2 separate regions of the Homo sapiens genome follow, and region 2 is linked to region 1. The links come from fine-mapping of genetic effects on gene expression. Tissue or cell type: whole blood. Region 1 holds a variant in brackets; the other region holds the start of a gene. All regions are shown on one strand. Distances are between the middles of the regions.

Region 1 (8,106 bases):
AAAATTTATAATAGCAAAGTTATAGGAAATAAACACAATCTAATATTAACACCATTGGGTTCAATTCTATTTTCATATATTTTATTCTTTGACAATACAAATTTTCTCCATATAATGAGCCTTCTTGGTAATTTATTACTTGGCTGTCACAAGCCTGGAGCTAAAAAGTATTTAAAAAACAAAATAAGTGCTATTTAGCATGAAAATATTTGAGAATATATAGCTAAAAAAGAAATATGGCAAGATGGTAAGATTTTTTGACTACAGAGTAAATGTGAAGATAGCTACGAGGCTTAACAGTTTTTAGAATCAACTAGATATAATTTTTCATTCAACAAAGGTTAACTATTATGCACATCTTGACTAAAAAGGCGCTCTTTTAGGTCCCTTTTTAGAAACAATATAGTTTATTCAAATAAATATTAGTTCAATTTTTGAACTATTGTTTAAAAATTTTTAGCTTTTTTTTCTCTTTGTATTAAACTATTTTCTTTTTAGGAACTCTAAAGATATGACATTGGGCAAGCCACTTAGTTTCAATATCCTCATCTGAGGGAAAAGGGGGTTGAACCCCTAGTTATTGTTCACCTTCCATCCAATCTAAATTGATGTGCTTTGAAATTTTTGATGCCCACATACTAATAAAAAACAGCGGTAAAAACAGTGTTTTCTTACGTGTATAATCTTTGTGTCACATATTTAATTGTGCCAACAGAGAAAACCCATTTATTTTCAAAGACTATATTCAAAGACTATATTAAATAGACTATGCTGCAAAATCTCATATTCCATTAGAAAGCAATGTCACATTAATGTACACTCCCCCAAATTAATTTTTATAAAAAGTTAAATCATTAGCAATAACAAGCGACAATATTTCAAAAGTGATTTTCAGATTTTTCATTTCAATCCCAGTTATCTAAATTGCAAAAACAGTCGTTGAGAGGGAAGCCCTACCAAAACCTATGAATGGAGAAGGGAGAAAGGTGTAGTTCAAAGTTTCTCAATTATGGCCCTGTTGACATTTTGGGCCAGATAATTCTTTATTGTAGGGAGTTCTCTGTGCACCACGGGATGTTTGGCAGCAGCACCCCTCTGCTCTATCCACAAGATGCCAGTACCACTGCCTGCTACTCTGAAGTGGTGACAACCAAAACTGTCTCCAGATTTTGCCAAATGTCTCCTAAGGGAAGAGGAGTGGAGGAATCAGCCGTGGTTGAGAGCCACTGGGTTAGGTAGAACCGCTTTATTTTAGTGGTTTGGATCAGTGATACTCAAGAGATCAGGATAGTCACCTGGAGGGCTTTTCCAACCATACATGGCTCCAGAGATTTTAGTATGCAGCTCACACCCCCTCAATTATTTGTAATTACGTATACCTCCATTGCCCCCTCTCATCTCTGTCCAGTGTGGTGCAGTACACCAAAAAAAAGTAGAGCAATTTTTCAAAGCCTAAAATATTCTGGGTTAATCAGATGAAATCTGTGAGAGCCTTTTCCTTAATGACGGCCCCTCCAAGCCAATTTCTGAACTCATGTAATTCCTCTTGAGTTCTGCACATGCACAGCCATTTTATTGGCAACTGTAGCACCAGAACTTCACTGTCTTTCTTTACCTGTTCTGGGAGAAAACTGACAAAAGTTGTGATAATCCCTGCCCTTCTCACTATTATGAGAGAGAGGGGCAAGCAAGGCCACGGCACAGAGCAATTAAAAACACACTCTCCTCTTCCCTTTCTATAAATGCCATCCACACACCGCAAACATGCGGAGTCTCATTCTTTTATAAGCAACAATCCTTCAACTATGATCATAACTGTCTCGTCACTCTGGGTGGTGAGGTGGCCATAAGTCTGAAAAAGTGAGGCTCTTCGGTGAAGACCAGATACATGGAAACATGCTTCTCCTACCTGCCAAAATAGCTCCATGCCTCTGGCCCAAACCTTAATCAAACCCTTGGCTTTCTGCAGCAATGTTACACATAAAATGCTTTCACACACATTACCTTAAATGATCCTAAACAATCTTGTAAGTGGGATGGGGAGGTGTTTTTATTCTCATTTTATGGATGAGGAAACTCTGGCCCAGTGAGGTTATGAGACTAGTCTCAGCCAGTTATTTACTGGGGGAGCCAAGATTTGAATGCAGCTTGCTGACCTCAAAGCCAGTGCTTTTTCCATTAAATTTCACAAAAGTAGTGCTCAGCAGAGCTACAGCTTTAAAGCCATGATGGTAGTCTTTAGATTCCATGCATTTAGGACTCTTTGCAAGGCCTGGATCTTAAAAAAACAAATTCTACTCTGCTGTATTCATGCAGGTCTGACAAATAGCAGTAAGGCAGTCATCCTTCTTAGCAAGCTACCTACAACTGACAAAGCCATATATTTTTCTAATGGAAAACGTCTCCACAGACAAGGAAATAAAGTCACTTAACTTTCCAGGATTCATTAACTAAAGCTGATGTTGCTTCTGATGCTGTTGTTAATGTCCCACAAAATTAATCTAACAATACCTACTAACTCCTTGTTCACAAATCACACACTCTAAATTTGGAGTGTCCTAGAATGATGTCTCTTTTCTTGTTAGTAAAACTGCTGAGAGCCATTCCCTAGCAAGGCTGGCAAGTACAGGTTTGCTATTGGAAGATACTGGAAGGAGAAACTGCCATTAATAAAGCATGAATACTTGTCATTAGCCAGACTGGAACATTGGAAAAGTGACATTTTAGCTTAGAAGGAAGGTCTCTGAAGCTATATGGGTAGGTTTGAGGGTCTTAAAGTTGGCTTCCATTTGAAGGGGCACTCCTCCCAGCAGATTGCTACAAATCTCCTCCCAGCTGATTGCTCCCATTGGCCACCTTTCTGAATGTCAACATTAGGAAATAAGTTTAATATTTACATTTTGTGAAAGCATGACCAAGAAAAGGTAATACTAACCTCATCTATAGCTTTTTTGTAGCTCTGAAATGAGAGGAACCCAATCCAGAAGAATCCACAGAAGGAGGAAAAGCCAGCAGAAAGGCAGCAGATTAGACACAAAATTGTAATTGTTAGTACGCAACTGATAAATACAAAAGGGCGAAGAGAATGTCAATCCAGAATGATGCAAATCCCTTCATTATTACTCTCGGTATACGTCGTTACTTTAAGATGTTAAAAAAGAGTAAACCAAAAAGCTTCACGTTCATTTTACAGAAAAGATTCTCAAGAGATTTAAATAGAAAAAATGGATAGTAATTCATCCCAAATTAATTTTCAACTTTCAAATTTTAGCCTCCATACTCCTCTTTAAGGCTACCTGGGGGTCTATCATGTTACAGCAGTGAAGCTGGATGCTAAGTTGTTACGACGCCTGTTGGACCCTGCTTAAAAAGTTTGGTCCAGAAAATATAGTCCTGGAGGCATGAAAAATAGCAGAAAAACTGTAATATTAATTCATGTGGAAAATAATATGGGGAAAGAGTAGAAGAGATTAGAGAAGTTCATAGAAAGTACCCAAGTCTCTTTAACTGCTACTTTCAACATCTTTTTGCCAAAGTTGCTGAGTAGAAATTATGGAATGATAGGAGTTGTTTCTCTTCCTGTTTTATAGTTAAAGGACTGCTAATGATCAGCAAATAGCCAAAGGCAGAGGAGTCAATCCAAGATCTCTTCGGTTCTTTCCTAATCAGGTATGACTTTCTTCGGGATGTTTCTAGCATCCGTTCTTACTAATCTCAACAATTTTTGTTTGCATCATGAGTGTATCCCCAACTACTTAATCCTGTGGGTTCTCTGGTAAATTAAGAGTTCAAAACTCTTGGAGAGAAAAGCACTCACAGCTGGTCGACTGGGCCGGGTAATGTCCCTGGATTCTTCTGGTTTCACCTTCGCAGGCTCATGGGG[G/A]AGCACAGGTGATCCTTCTGACTTACTGTTGGCTAGAGGAAAAAAACAGAGGACCAAGAAAGAGATGGCCATCAAAAAGTGCTGGCTCAAGTTCTGAATGAATTATCTGTGATGTGTCATCACATTGAGATTACTCAGTGGACACGTCATTCACCTGGGCAAATCCTCAAGAAACATCCATGAAAAATATAATGTTCAGGCAAACACATTTAGGCTTGTGACCTGGAAATCACTAGTAACAATTAAAAAAAAAAGAAATGTAGCAAGTACTATCACCACTAGAGCACTTCTTATGTGTCAGGCATAGTGCTAAATGCTTTCCATGTCAATTATCTCATTTAATCCTCACTCCAACCCAATGATATGGCACTATTCTCCTATTTTACAGAACACAGATTTACAAAGATGACACAACTGTCCGGAGGTCACACTGAAATTATAGACAGAGCTGGAGTTCTGATTTCTGAAAGTCCTATTCTCAGTCACTATGCTAAATGAGCCTCTAAGGTTCTATGCTTGTTTTCTTCTTTTATCATTTGTCCAATCAGGATAGGTTATTTTGTTGAAATTTTGTGAGGGAAAAAAAATTTATTTTATTTGGTGGAACGGTTTTTAATTGGAGATGGGAGTGGTCTCAGCCCTTTAAAAATAAAAGAATGAGGTGAGGGCAAGAAGGGGGTTGTTATAGGAGAAGGGCCCTAGGCTGGAGGTACAGAGCAAGGTCAAGGGGACCCTGACAGCTGCAGAGTGAATAGCATCTTTGCAGTCTATGAGCTTACAGATAGAGAAGATGCAATTTAGGGTAGGAGAGGTGGTTTTTATTTCTTAAAAAGTAGTCTTTCTTGGACAGGGACATACCAGGGATACAACAGCCCTTTTAATCCGGAAGAACGAGGGGCTGAAGGAAATAAAAAGTAAGCCTGAACCAGACCAGAGAATTAAAATGGTATGCGTTTAAGTTTGGTTTATTTAAATATTTGCTCTAAGAATATGAAGTTGCCTATAAATAGAAAAAAGATAACAGAATGGCTGTTTTCTTTCTTTAGGTGTTTTAGAGATGGGGCTCTGTCACCTAGGCTGGAGCGCAGTGGGGCCATCATAGCTCACTGCAGCCTTGAACTCCTGAGCTTAAGCAATTCTTCTACCTCGGCCTTCCGGGTACCTAGGACTACAGGCGTAAGCCACTACATCTGGTAGTTTTCTAAATTAAGGAAATTTATATTTCGATCAAGGCAACAAAGACATACAGTAGATACTTCTGAGATGTGCCACTAATCAGAAGAATGCATATAGAGGCAGCTGTTGGCTAGTCCATATCCCAATCCAGAGACGTGAACATCAATCACATGTTAGATATCAAGCTTTTTAAAATGGAAATAGAGTGATTTATTTAAAACCCTGAAAGGGTGTTAGGAGATAAACTAAGGGTATTAGGAGGTGGTATGTAATAAAGAGTCTAAGAAAGAAAAAAGAACTGAAGGTTCTCATGAGGCTTTCATCAGACAGAGAAACTTATAAGTATGTTAATATTTGTCAAATTGCAATTAAAGTACTGGTCTTCATCACTTAGAAGCAAAATTATCTTCTGAAGAAGTTGATTCAGAAGGAGTGAATTTTAACTAGCTAGAAACAATGTATTATTATGTATCAGCACCTGGAAATAATAATGTTTTTCATAGGCCTCCCCATTACTGGAAACTAAACAATGATGAATAATTTGAATTAAATATTTAGAGAGGCTAATTTTTACTTAATAGGAATAACCAGAGGAGTCAACAATTTTTTTTTTTTTTGATGGAGTTTCATTCTTGTTGCCAAGGCTGGAGTACAATGGCGTGATCTTGGCTCACCACAACCTCTGCCTCCTGGGTTCAAGCGATTCTCCTGCCTCAGCCTCCCGAGTAGCTGGGATTACAGGCATGCACCACCACGCCAGGCTAATTTTTTGTATTTTTAGTAGCGATGGGGTTTCTCCATGTTAGTCAGGCTGATCTTGGAACTCCCGACCTTAGGTGATCTGCCTGCCTTGGCCTCCCTAAGTGCTGGGATTACAGGCGTGAGCCACCACACTCGGCCTAAATATGCTTTTTAAGTCAAAGATTTTATTCCTTCCTTCAAGTGTATTCTACATTAGTCTTTACTGAATTTCATTTTGAGAAATACATGGTATTCTGAACTGTGTATATGAACTATGTTCAGAATACTAAACAGGACAATTGGTGCAATGCGTTCAGGACATTTGTGGGTACATGAAACTCTAAAAACCGGCAATCAAACAGAAACAGAAATTCAGGTGACTGGTAAGTGACTGTATTTTCAAATAAGACTGATATTTGGTGATCTCCCTGGAAAACACTGGTATCTGAGATTAGAAAGGATTTTGTCCATACTGATGGCACACACACAATTAGGGACAGTGGCCCACTCCCGAGGAGACTGGGGTTGAGAGCAGTTGACAGGCTCTTCAGGATCACACAGTGGTGGCCATGCCTGGACTAGAGTCAGGAAGTAACTAACCTTTTTCCCTGTCCACAGCTTTCCTCCCAGGCAGTATTGCCAGGTAAAGGTAAGAGAAAGTTTTACCTCGAACTCTGGTGCGTTCACTGGATCCTGCTTGTGATCCAGGCTGGGAGCCTCCTTGGGAGCTGGGCTGGGAGCTAGGGGTGCTGGAGCTGGAGGAACTGCCACTGCTGGTCCTCTGCAAGGGGCTCTCCAAGATGGGCTCAGTTCTCCGGAGATCAGGGTTGCTGTGTGAGTGACAGAGCACACTGGTTACACTCTCCAGACCTTGCCAGTTTTGCAGATCACATATCTGATAAGGTTTAATACCCAAAATATGTAAGGAACTCAAAACAGCTCAATAGCAAGAAAACGAATAACCCAATTAAAAATGGGGAAAGGACCTGAATAGACATTTCTTAAAAGGAGACATGCAGATAGCCAATAGGAATATGAAAAAAATGATCAGCATCACTAATCATCAGGGAAATGCAAATTAAAACCACAATGAGCCAGGCACAGTGGCTGTCACCTATAACCCCAGCACTTTGGAAGGCTCAGGTGGGAGGATCACTTGAGGCCAGGAGTTCAAGACCAGCCTGGGCAACATAGTGAGATCCCATCTCCACAAAAAAATTAGCTGGGCATAGTGGCATGTGCCTGTCCTCCCACTTACATGAGAGGCTGAGGTGGGAGGGTCACTTGACCCCAGGAGGTCAAGGCTTCAGTGAGCCATGATCACGCCACTGCACTCCAGCCTGGGCAACAGAGTGAGACCATGTCTCAAAAAATAAAAACATAAATTTAAAAACCCCACCAAACCACAATGAGATATGACCTCATACCTATTAGAATGGCTGTTTTCAAAAGACAAAAGATAATGAGTGTTGGTGAGGATGCAGAGAAGAGGGAACCCTTGTACCCTGTTGGTGAGAATGTAAAATAGTACAGCCAGTACGGAAAACAGTATGAAGGTTCCGCAAAAGACTAAAAATAGAATTATCATAGGATCCAGAGATTCCACTTCTGGATATATATCCAAAGGAAATGAAATCAGTACATTGAAGAGGTAGCTGTACTCCCATGCTCAGTGCAGCACTATTCACAGTAGCCACAATATGGAATCAACCTAAGTGTGTGTCCACTGAAGAATGAATGGATAAAGAAAATGTGATATATCTCTCTCTCAAAAAGACAAATACTACATGATCTCACTTATAGGTGGAATCTACAAATACCGAACTCATAGAAACAGAGAGTAGAATGATAGTTGCCAGGGGATCTAGGAAGGAGAGAGAATGGGAAGATGTTGGTCAAAGGTTACAGTTTCACTTGGACAGCATGAGTAACTTTTGGAAATCTACTGTACACCATGGTGAGTACAGATCATAACGAGGTATACTTGAAAATTGCGAAGATAGTAGATCTTAAATGTCATCAGAAAAAAATGATAACTATGTGAGGTGATGGATATATTGATTAACTTGATTTTAGTAATCATTTCACAGTGTATACATATATCAAAACATCATGTTATACACTGTAAATAGATATACTTTTTATTTGTCAATCATACCTCAGTAAAGCTAGGGGGGACAAAATCTTGCCATTGGTAGACACAAGCATAGTCCCGTCCCCAGTGCAAGGAAGTAAAAAGAGCACTTACAAGACCTTGAGAGGAAGGGGTCAACAGAAGATGACAGTCATGCCTTCCTCTGTAGAGT
Region 2 (8,106 bases), 350 kb after region 1:
AAACTCCTGGTTTCAAGCAGTCCTCCCACTTCGGCCTCCCGAAGTGCTGGGATTACAGGTGTGAGCCACTGTGCCCAGGAAAGATAATTTTCTATTAGATAAAATCATTGCAATCAAATGTTGATGGTATCAATTTTCCCACTAAATTCTACTTAACCATGGGATAGCATATTTGTACAGTGCTGTATGGTTTTTAAAGCATTGCCTTAAATACTTTATTGATTTTGAAACCAGTATGTGAGAAAGGCAAACAGTTGTGATGATTCTTATTAACTATGGTTAAATGTCCTACCCAAAGTCACAGAGTGAATAAGAGGTGGACATAGAACTGGGGAGACAGGGTTCATTCCACTCCATTCATTCAAGCATTCATTCACGTACTCATTCATCCAACTAATGGAGACTATGGCTCCAAAGATGAACAAGATCTAGCCTCTGCCCTCAAGAAGTCCACGGTTTAGTAAAGAAGCAGAAAGGAAATCACACACCAAGTAAAACATGAGCATGAAAAGTGTAGCAAAGGGATGTATGCAAGGCTTTCAGATGAGGTCAATTCTTAAATCTGGGTTTCAATGGAGAAAGGAATGGCTAGGGAATGAGGGCTAAGGGGAAAGACAAGTGTAGATCATCTAATTTTGTTCAAATACAAAAGTGTATGTGAGTCCTGGCAGAAGCTGAGAGTATGAGGTCAGCAGCAGCCAACTCCTGGCCTTGAATGCCTTACCCTGTGGGCCAAGTTAAGGACAGCCAAGGTGCTTAGGTCCAGAAATATGCTAATCTCCAAAAAGCTTTCTGGGCTGAGCTCGCCTCATATGTAATAAAGCACACTGGTGGCAACTTTCATCTCTTTTAATACTGAGATGTCTTGAAGCAAGAATGACTCAAGCCCCAGGTTTGAATGAGTAAATTGTTTGCTGTAGCCTATGTATGTATACACACATTTTCATACACCCACGTGGATACGGTTTATATCCATAATACTACACATAATATATGTATCCACATAGATAATACAAAACATACACACAACTCTATAAACCTCACATGCAGAGCCATCTGAATAACATGTATGTTTATACTGACCCCTTGAGACATGCTCTGATGGACACAGGTTACTCAGAGAGGTTACCTGTGCAGGACAACCATGTGTCCTAGGTGATTTCAGACAGTCGTTTGCCTGCAGAGTAGGCATTGAACCAGGGCTGGACAAGATGAATTCCAAAGGTGGCCTAGAGCTCCATGGTTTCATGTATCACAAGCTTACTTGCATGAAGTAGTTTCGCCATTCTCAATAAATAAAATTCCCTGACCCTGGTGAAATTATTCCTTTCTGCTATTCTTTTGTACTCAGGCAGAAAATGTATTATTGATTTCTGATTCCACCACAGAAAGTGTGACTTAGAGAAAAGAGCACTGAATGAGGAGTCAGGAAATCTAGATTATTTCCTCAAACCACGCTCCTCGCTGTCCCCTCCCCTTGTTACTGTGTGACCTTGAACAACTTACTTCACGCCTCTGGGCTTCAGTTTCCCAAGTGTTCAATGAAAGGAGTGGCTGAGTGTTCTACAATTCTCTTTCCAGCTCTGAATCTATAAAACAATTCCAGCCCATCCCTCAAGATTTAGTTTATCTCTGAGCTCTAAAAATCAGGGCTAAAACTGGATTCAAAGTACCTATTTTCTAACCAAAGAAGATCCTGCTTCACTCACTTTTAAACCATGCAAATCTTGCATAATTTAAATGATCAGTGCTGTCATTGGTTGCTCTGGTTTAAATTATGCATTGTTGCTATTTGGGGAAAATTTAGACTGGGTCCGGTCTGGAATCACTGGCTGAGAACAATAAGCCCCCAAAGTGAGAAGGATAAAGGCCTCTCTAGACAGGATCTGCTTTTAATGCTTTGAGCCCAGGGTTTACAAAAAGAGCATTGACTGTGTACATTAAAGAGCCACCGAAACAGCGAGGGACTGGTAAGTCTGCAGCAAATTCTCCCAGAAGCCACTGACCTTGGCTGCATTTCAGGGGTCAGGCATTCCCCAGGAGGGGCTCAGCAGGCAGACTTTACCAAGGGCTTAGGAACAAATGAGACATCTCATCTAGATGAGGCCACCTCTCCAAATGTGGCAAGGTGGAGATGATCTGCCCTCTGATTTGTGGAGATTACCTATGTGGCCTTTGGACCCACTCCAGCAGACACACCTCACCCACAAGACTGGTCAAAGACCCTGGCCCTCCAGGATATAACTGTCTCCACATCTGCATCTAAGTCTTCTAGCCAGCAGTTCCTGGTCCCCAAGCTAGCTGTTGCCCTCTCTGTTTCCACACCTCCCAGCAGGCAGAAAAACAGAAGCAGAGCCCTAAGCTGATAGCCCAGGCCACAAAGAGCAATTTCAGTGAATTGTGCAAAGATATATTTTCAAAATACAGATCACAAGAAAGCACATCCCAAGTGTGAACCGCAGTCGTCCGCCCAGTGGGCCCTCACCGGTTGCTCCCCTGCCTGCAGGCTCCGTGCTTGGTATCTCAGAAAACCTTCCCGAGGAAAAAGCCCATAAGGGACAAGTCCCGGCCCAACTTAAAATCACATCAGACTGCTTTCCAGTAGAGGAGCAAGGTCGAGATTCCGGCCCAGGGAAATCACCGCAAGCCCTGCGCATTGTTCAGACCCCTTCCCCCTTTGCCACTTCCCGCCCCCCACCCCGACCTCCGACCGATTCGCAGCACCCCACCCCCAGTCGGGGCCATCCATCCACCTGATTAACTCGCCGGCAGCAACTCCCAGCGTAGAAAGTAGGGCAAATGAACACACACAGTCGGTAAAGCAGGAAGCCACAGACCTGGCCAATGCACCCACCCTGTTACCAACCCCACCCCGCTGCGCAGGGGGCAGCCGGTTCTTGATGTGGCATTTCCACTCCAGGGAAATAGACAGCTTCCTGTAATAATGCATGAATGAGCTTTGGCTGCCCAACTATCAGAACAGCCCATTTCAAACGGCATCTCTGTTTCTTCTCAACTCCTTACTTGCCTTGCTGAAACCTCATCTCTTAGCCCAACAGATTAAGACGAAGAGAGAAAGACTTATTCAAAGAGATGTGGAGGAAAAGGTTTAATTAAGGAGACCAAAGAGAAAGTACCACTTTGATCACAAAGGTAGCACTTTAATATATCAGTGCAGATAGCGGCAATGTCAGAAGTACTAGGAATCCAGGTAAATGGCCCCAAGATTCAGCATCAATCTAACAATGTATTCCTCAGGAGGGCGTGTGAACTTCCATGCTTCATCCATCCTGGTGTCTCCCTGTAGAGAGCCACCATGAATTCCTTCTCATCCACCCTCCATACATCAAGTATATGCACTCGCTTTCTTTTTAATTTTATTTTTGGTTCGGGAGAGGAAGAAGCAGTCCTTAAATTGGTGTCCAATCCTTCTCAGACACCCGCTGCTGCCACCATCCCCACCCCTCACCCCCTTCCAGGCAGGCAGCATCTAATTAAAATGGCAAGAAAGCTCTGCCCCCTTCCCCAAAGGAGTGTGTTGGGATCGGGAGTTGGGGGTGGGGAAGCGTCGAAGCAGCACTTGGATTCCTGGTATTCTGATCTCAAAACAACAGCAAAATGGATTCTATATCAGTGATGTCTTAGTCAATACAATGAAACGGCGTCTGAGGTAATTCACGTGAAGGTAAACGCAAACCAGTGGGGCTGGGGGGAGGGAGGTGCTCTACAAAGGACTGGCCACAGACACGGGGAAAACACACACAGACACACACACACACACACTCGCACACACTCCAGGGAGTTCCGGTCTGATTGAGGAAAAGCAGAAAACACATCCCTTTCACCTGCTTAAGTTCAGCCATAAAACTGAAACGTTACAGCCACAAAGTCAGAAAGAACAGGCAGGGCTGAGTTAAAGCCATAAATAAAGGTGAGTGGCAGACTGGCATTTAAGGGAGCGCTGAGAGGGCGCCCGGGCGCGGGAGGTAGAAAAGGGGGAGGGGGAGGCAGTTGCCATCTACAAGACCAGCATAGCAATAACTGCCCCCTTGGAGCGGCAGGTTCGGCTTCGCGGGGACAGCCAGCCTCACAATGTCATCTTGCAGGTAGCTGGAAAACGTGAGGGGCCAGTGCCTTTATTCACGCTGGCATTCTTTTTGCAGAAGGGACAGTCGGGTCTCGCGCCTTGGCACCAGACAACTGCCCGGGGCGTGTACACACACACACACACACACACACACACGCACACACGCCTTTCATTTTAATGCTCTTACACCGGTATAAGATGAAACTGGCATAAGCTCTACGAGCCCTCGGGAGAGCCTAAGCCACGGCCAGAGGAAGACACGTACCGCACAGCCCCTGCCGTAGGGGCTCAGCCAGGAGCACCTCAGCAACCCCGAATCAAAACGGGAATCCAGGTTCCCTCCCCGACGCATTCTCCCGCTGCTGTCCCCCTGCCCCAGCCCCAGCCCCCAGTCCACGCACCGAGCCCATTCACCCTAACCCAAACCACTGGAAAGAAACCAGAAAACGTCCTGCTCACCCTCAGAGCCGAGAGATCTATTTCATCCAGGCTTCGAGCCGGGGAGTCGCTCGCCATGTCTACTTCTTCGCTGGAGAAATGGACCAAAACCACCCCGAAGCTTTTCCCTTGGAAATTCCACCTTGGTCTATTTCACTCGCGTCCTCATGCGGGTGTCGCGCCAGAGGCCCCGGGCCCAGCCTCCCCCGCCCACCCCAGCCCCACAGCGCCGGATCCCGATCCTCCGCGCGTCGGTCCGCCGGGTCCGGGAGCCCAGCCTGCGCGGATCTCCAAGCCCCGAGCAGCGGTGCGTGTGGGCTGAGCGCCCCGATCGGCTAAGGGCGCTGGGGCTGCGTGGGTGTATTTAAATGGGACATGCTTCTTTGCTTGTGCGTGGATGGCGGCTGCATTGGCTGTTATAATGAGACACATCAACTCCTCCACTCAGCAGGGGGAGGGTGGGGGTGGAGAACCACGCAGAACTGTCTATCACCGCTTCCTGGGAGGAGTGAAGGGGGAGTGGGGAGGCGGAGGAGGCGTGGTCTTGGACTGGGGAGAGGCCGCGCTTCCTGACCCGGTCCCTCTGCACCAGCGTGGAGGGGGGAGGGGCGCGCACCCTTTCCGCCCAGGCTTTTGCGGGCTCCTCGGGCCGAACCCGAAGGGGCTGTTCCTGAACCTTGACTTGTTATCATAGGGACCCAAGCTCTATTTTTGTGTGGCCAATTCGTGCACTGCAGCAAAATGGCCCTTCAGTCGCGTCTTGGGGTTTCTCCTCGGTTCAAATGCTCTCGCGCTGAGAAAAAGCCGGAGGAAAAAAAAGCGACACCCTCCCTCCCCCATTAATTATTTGTGGGGCCGGAGTAACGCGGGCTGGTGCAACCGGTGCATATAAGGACTTGTGTGCAAGGAAGGGGATCCGCCTCCAGGCGCGGAAAGAGTAGGGAAGAAGCGCACACGCACAGTGCACCCAGCTGGGCGCTTCGGCAGTTTGCAGCTGCGGCGGGGTCGGGTCCACCCGCGGTCCCCGGAATGCCGGACGGCTGATCCCGGGTGCTGGTCACTCGCCGATTCGGGGCTGGGAAGGTTTGCCAGAAGCGGGAAAGATGGGAGATCTGAGCGCTCTCTTGGCATCGCCACACCCAGGACTTGCTCGTGCCGCAATTCCCCACGGAAACAACCGAGTTGAAACGAGAAGCTTGCTCTCTGGGTGCAGTAGCTAGAAGGCTTCAGGTAACTCCAAAGCCAACACTGGGTGAGGCAACACACGCCGCCTCAGGACTCAGCATTTCTTTCAGGCTGCGTTTTCGTGGCAGACCTACCCAGATTGATGGAGAAAGTTTGGCTGGCGGATAAGAAGTAACGCGGAAGATGTGTACGTGAGAGCGATTTCACTTCACTCACTTTCTCATTTAAAGGTTGGATGTTTTACAGTGGTATACATGATTCTCCTTCTGTAATCAAGAGTGGGAAGTCGCTTCCCCCAATCCCCGCGCAGCCCTTCTTCTCCCGCCTTAGCCATGCAAAATACCTAGAAAGAAAACACTAAAACTGAACTTTTTTCCAAATACAGCAGTAGCTTTGAAAGCATTCTTTGCTCCTCTGTTAACAGCAGAATGTAATTCTGACCACTGCACTGATGGTTTCTTAATCATGCAGTATGAAGATCAGCTTCAAAATAAGTCTTATGAATGAATGAATGAAAGCCAGTGCAGTTAGTTCATCATGACTGCAGACATTAGAGGACTTTGAAACAACCTTTGGTGTACATTGTACTGTTTTTGTTACTGATATTGTATGTATTCATATGCATTGTGGATCATGCACCATGAAACTTGAAAATTGTTCCAACATCTCAATGGCCACAACAGTTTGGTAGCTTTTGCCTGTAAACGTTGTATGTAAACATTTGAACGTGTTATACTAAATTACTAAACTCATTTTTTACTAAAATCATCTGGTTCGACATAGTAAGTAACGTGCAGTAAGCCACCACGTCGAAATGAAAAAAAAAAAACAGATTATTTCCCATCATTGTCTTTGTTTTTTTCTCTTCTGTGTTCCTGTTTTTTTACCGTTCATCTAGACAACAGGTTAATGTATTGTCTCAGGGTTGAAAGAAGATAATTTAAGATCAAGTATTAAGATCTATAAACAACTATTTTTTTAAAACTGCAAACATAAGGAAATATGAGTTAAATATTTTTTCCATGGAAAGCCTTCGTTTTATACTCATGATTATATTTGAAACATCACAAACAGATCAACTTTTTTGACATTAGTGAGCTGTTTGGGCCACGAGGGTGCCAAGTTGGCATTCAGATTTAGTTTAGTTTTAGATGAGAAAGTTATAGATGCAGTATGATGCCAGGTGCTAAATGGAGGAGGGCTTCCTAAGAGCCTGAGAAGTTGATGAGACAGCCAGGGGAAGGCAGGGGTGTGGGCTGCAGGAAATACCATAAAAGGAGAGATTGCAGTATCAAAGGGACCTCCAACTGGTAAAGGAAGGTGAGAAGGAGGAACTTGAACTTTTTCCTTTTGGTCAAGTGTGTATCAAATTTCAGCTATTCCAGTATAAATTTCCTAATTTTTTCCTATGTCTCTGTATTGCCTGTACTATTTTACCACTTACTTAACATTTTTCTTTAAATCAACACTTTTTTCTTACACTTAATATAAAAGAAAACATAAATCACTACTCTAAATGGAAAGCCAACAACACTTGCTTTGAAAAAAAAAGGGGGGAGGAAACCATTAAAATAAATATAATGGAAAATAAAGAAGTATTATTAAATTCTAGCTAGCCATCAATTCCTGCTCTGGGCTTCTAGCCTAAGGCCTACTCTTAGTTTGTTAAAAGAGAGAATAGCAAATACCAGGAAAAACATTCAAGACTTGAGATTTTTTTCTTGATGTAATCTGAAGGATTAAGAGAACTGACACCATTTATGTGCAGTTTGAAAACCTGCCGAATAATACACTATGCTGTTTACATATGTATAAATATGTAGTAAACTATATAAAGCATGGATACAGGCAGTAAGGATACAGATTAACTTCAGGATAATGAGAAAAGAGGAAGAGGAAAAGGAGACTCCAACAATGATACCTAATTTTTTTGCTAAAGATTTCTGCCAGGCACGGTGGTGGCTCACACCTGTGATGCCAACATTTTGGGAGGACAGGTTGGGAGGATAGTTTGAGTCCAGGAGTTCGAGACCCGCCTGGGCAACTTGGTAGAACCCCATCTCTACAAAAAATACAAAAATTAGGTGGGCATAGTGGTACACCCCTGCAATCCCAGCTACTAGGGTGGCTGAGGTGGAAGAATTGCTTGAGTCCGGGAGGTTGAGGCTGCAGCAAGCCAAGATAAGCCACTGCACTCCAGCCTGGGCGACAGAGGGAGACCCTCTTTATAAAAATGAATAGAAAATTTGAATAATAAGTAATACTATGCTGCAGATATTTTTCTAAGCATTTGTTCTATCTGAATGTTTGTGTCTCCCAAAATTTATGTGTTGAAACCTAACCCCCATAGTGATAGTATTAAGAGGTGGAACCTTTAAGAGGTGATTAGATCATGA

What was found. PIP is the estimated chance that this variant, and not a neighbour inherited with it, causes the effect.
Region 2: it holds the start of TNIK, and the variant in region 1 is fine-mapped to the expression of TNIK in whole blood (INTERVAL, PIP above 0.99).

Annotation. Positions count from the first base shown.
Region 1 is chr3:171,104,248-171,112,353 of GRCh38, forward strand. TNIK (TRAF2 and NCK interacting kinase) reads right to left here. Exons shown (of 33, transcript NM_015028.4): 19 at 6,467-6,630; 20 at 3,818-3,915; 21 at 2,936-2,959. MIR569 (microRNA 569) reads right to left here and starts at 2,512; the gene lies at 2,417-2,512. LOC105374216 (a long non-coding RNA gene) reads left to right here. Exons shown (of 5, transcript XR_007096163.1): 2 at 2,947-3,128; 3 at 3,591-3,669. The variant G/A (reference allele first, on the strand shown) is at 3,884.
Region 2 is chr3:171,455,461-171,463,566 of GRCh38, forward strand. It overlaps TNIK (TRAF2 and NCK interacting kinase), which reads right to left and starts at 4,945. Exons shown (of 33, transcript NM_015028.4): 1 at 4,547-4,945. The coding sequence starts at 4,603. It overlaps LOC124906303 (a long non-coding RNA gene), which reads right to left and starts at 2,711. Exons shown (of 2, transcript XR_007096168.1): 1 at 2,486-2,711. LOC102724479 (a long non-coding RNA gene) reads left to right here and starts at 3,758. Exons shown (of 3, transcript NR_189068.1): 1 at 3,758-3,931. RefSeq lists a silencer at 4,575-4,634 and an enhancer at 5,646-6,146.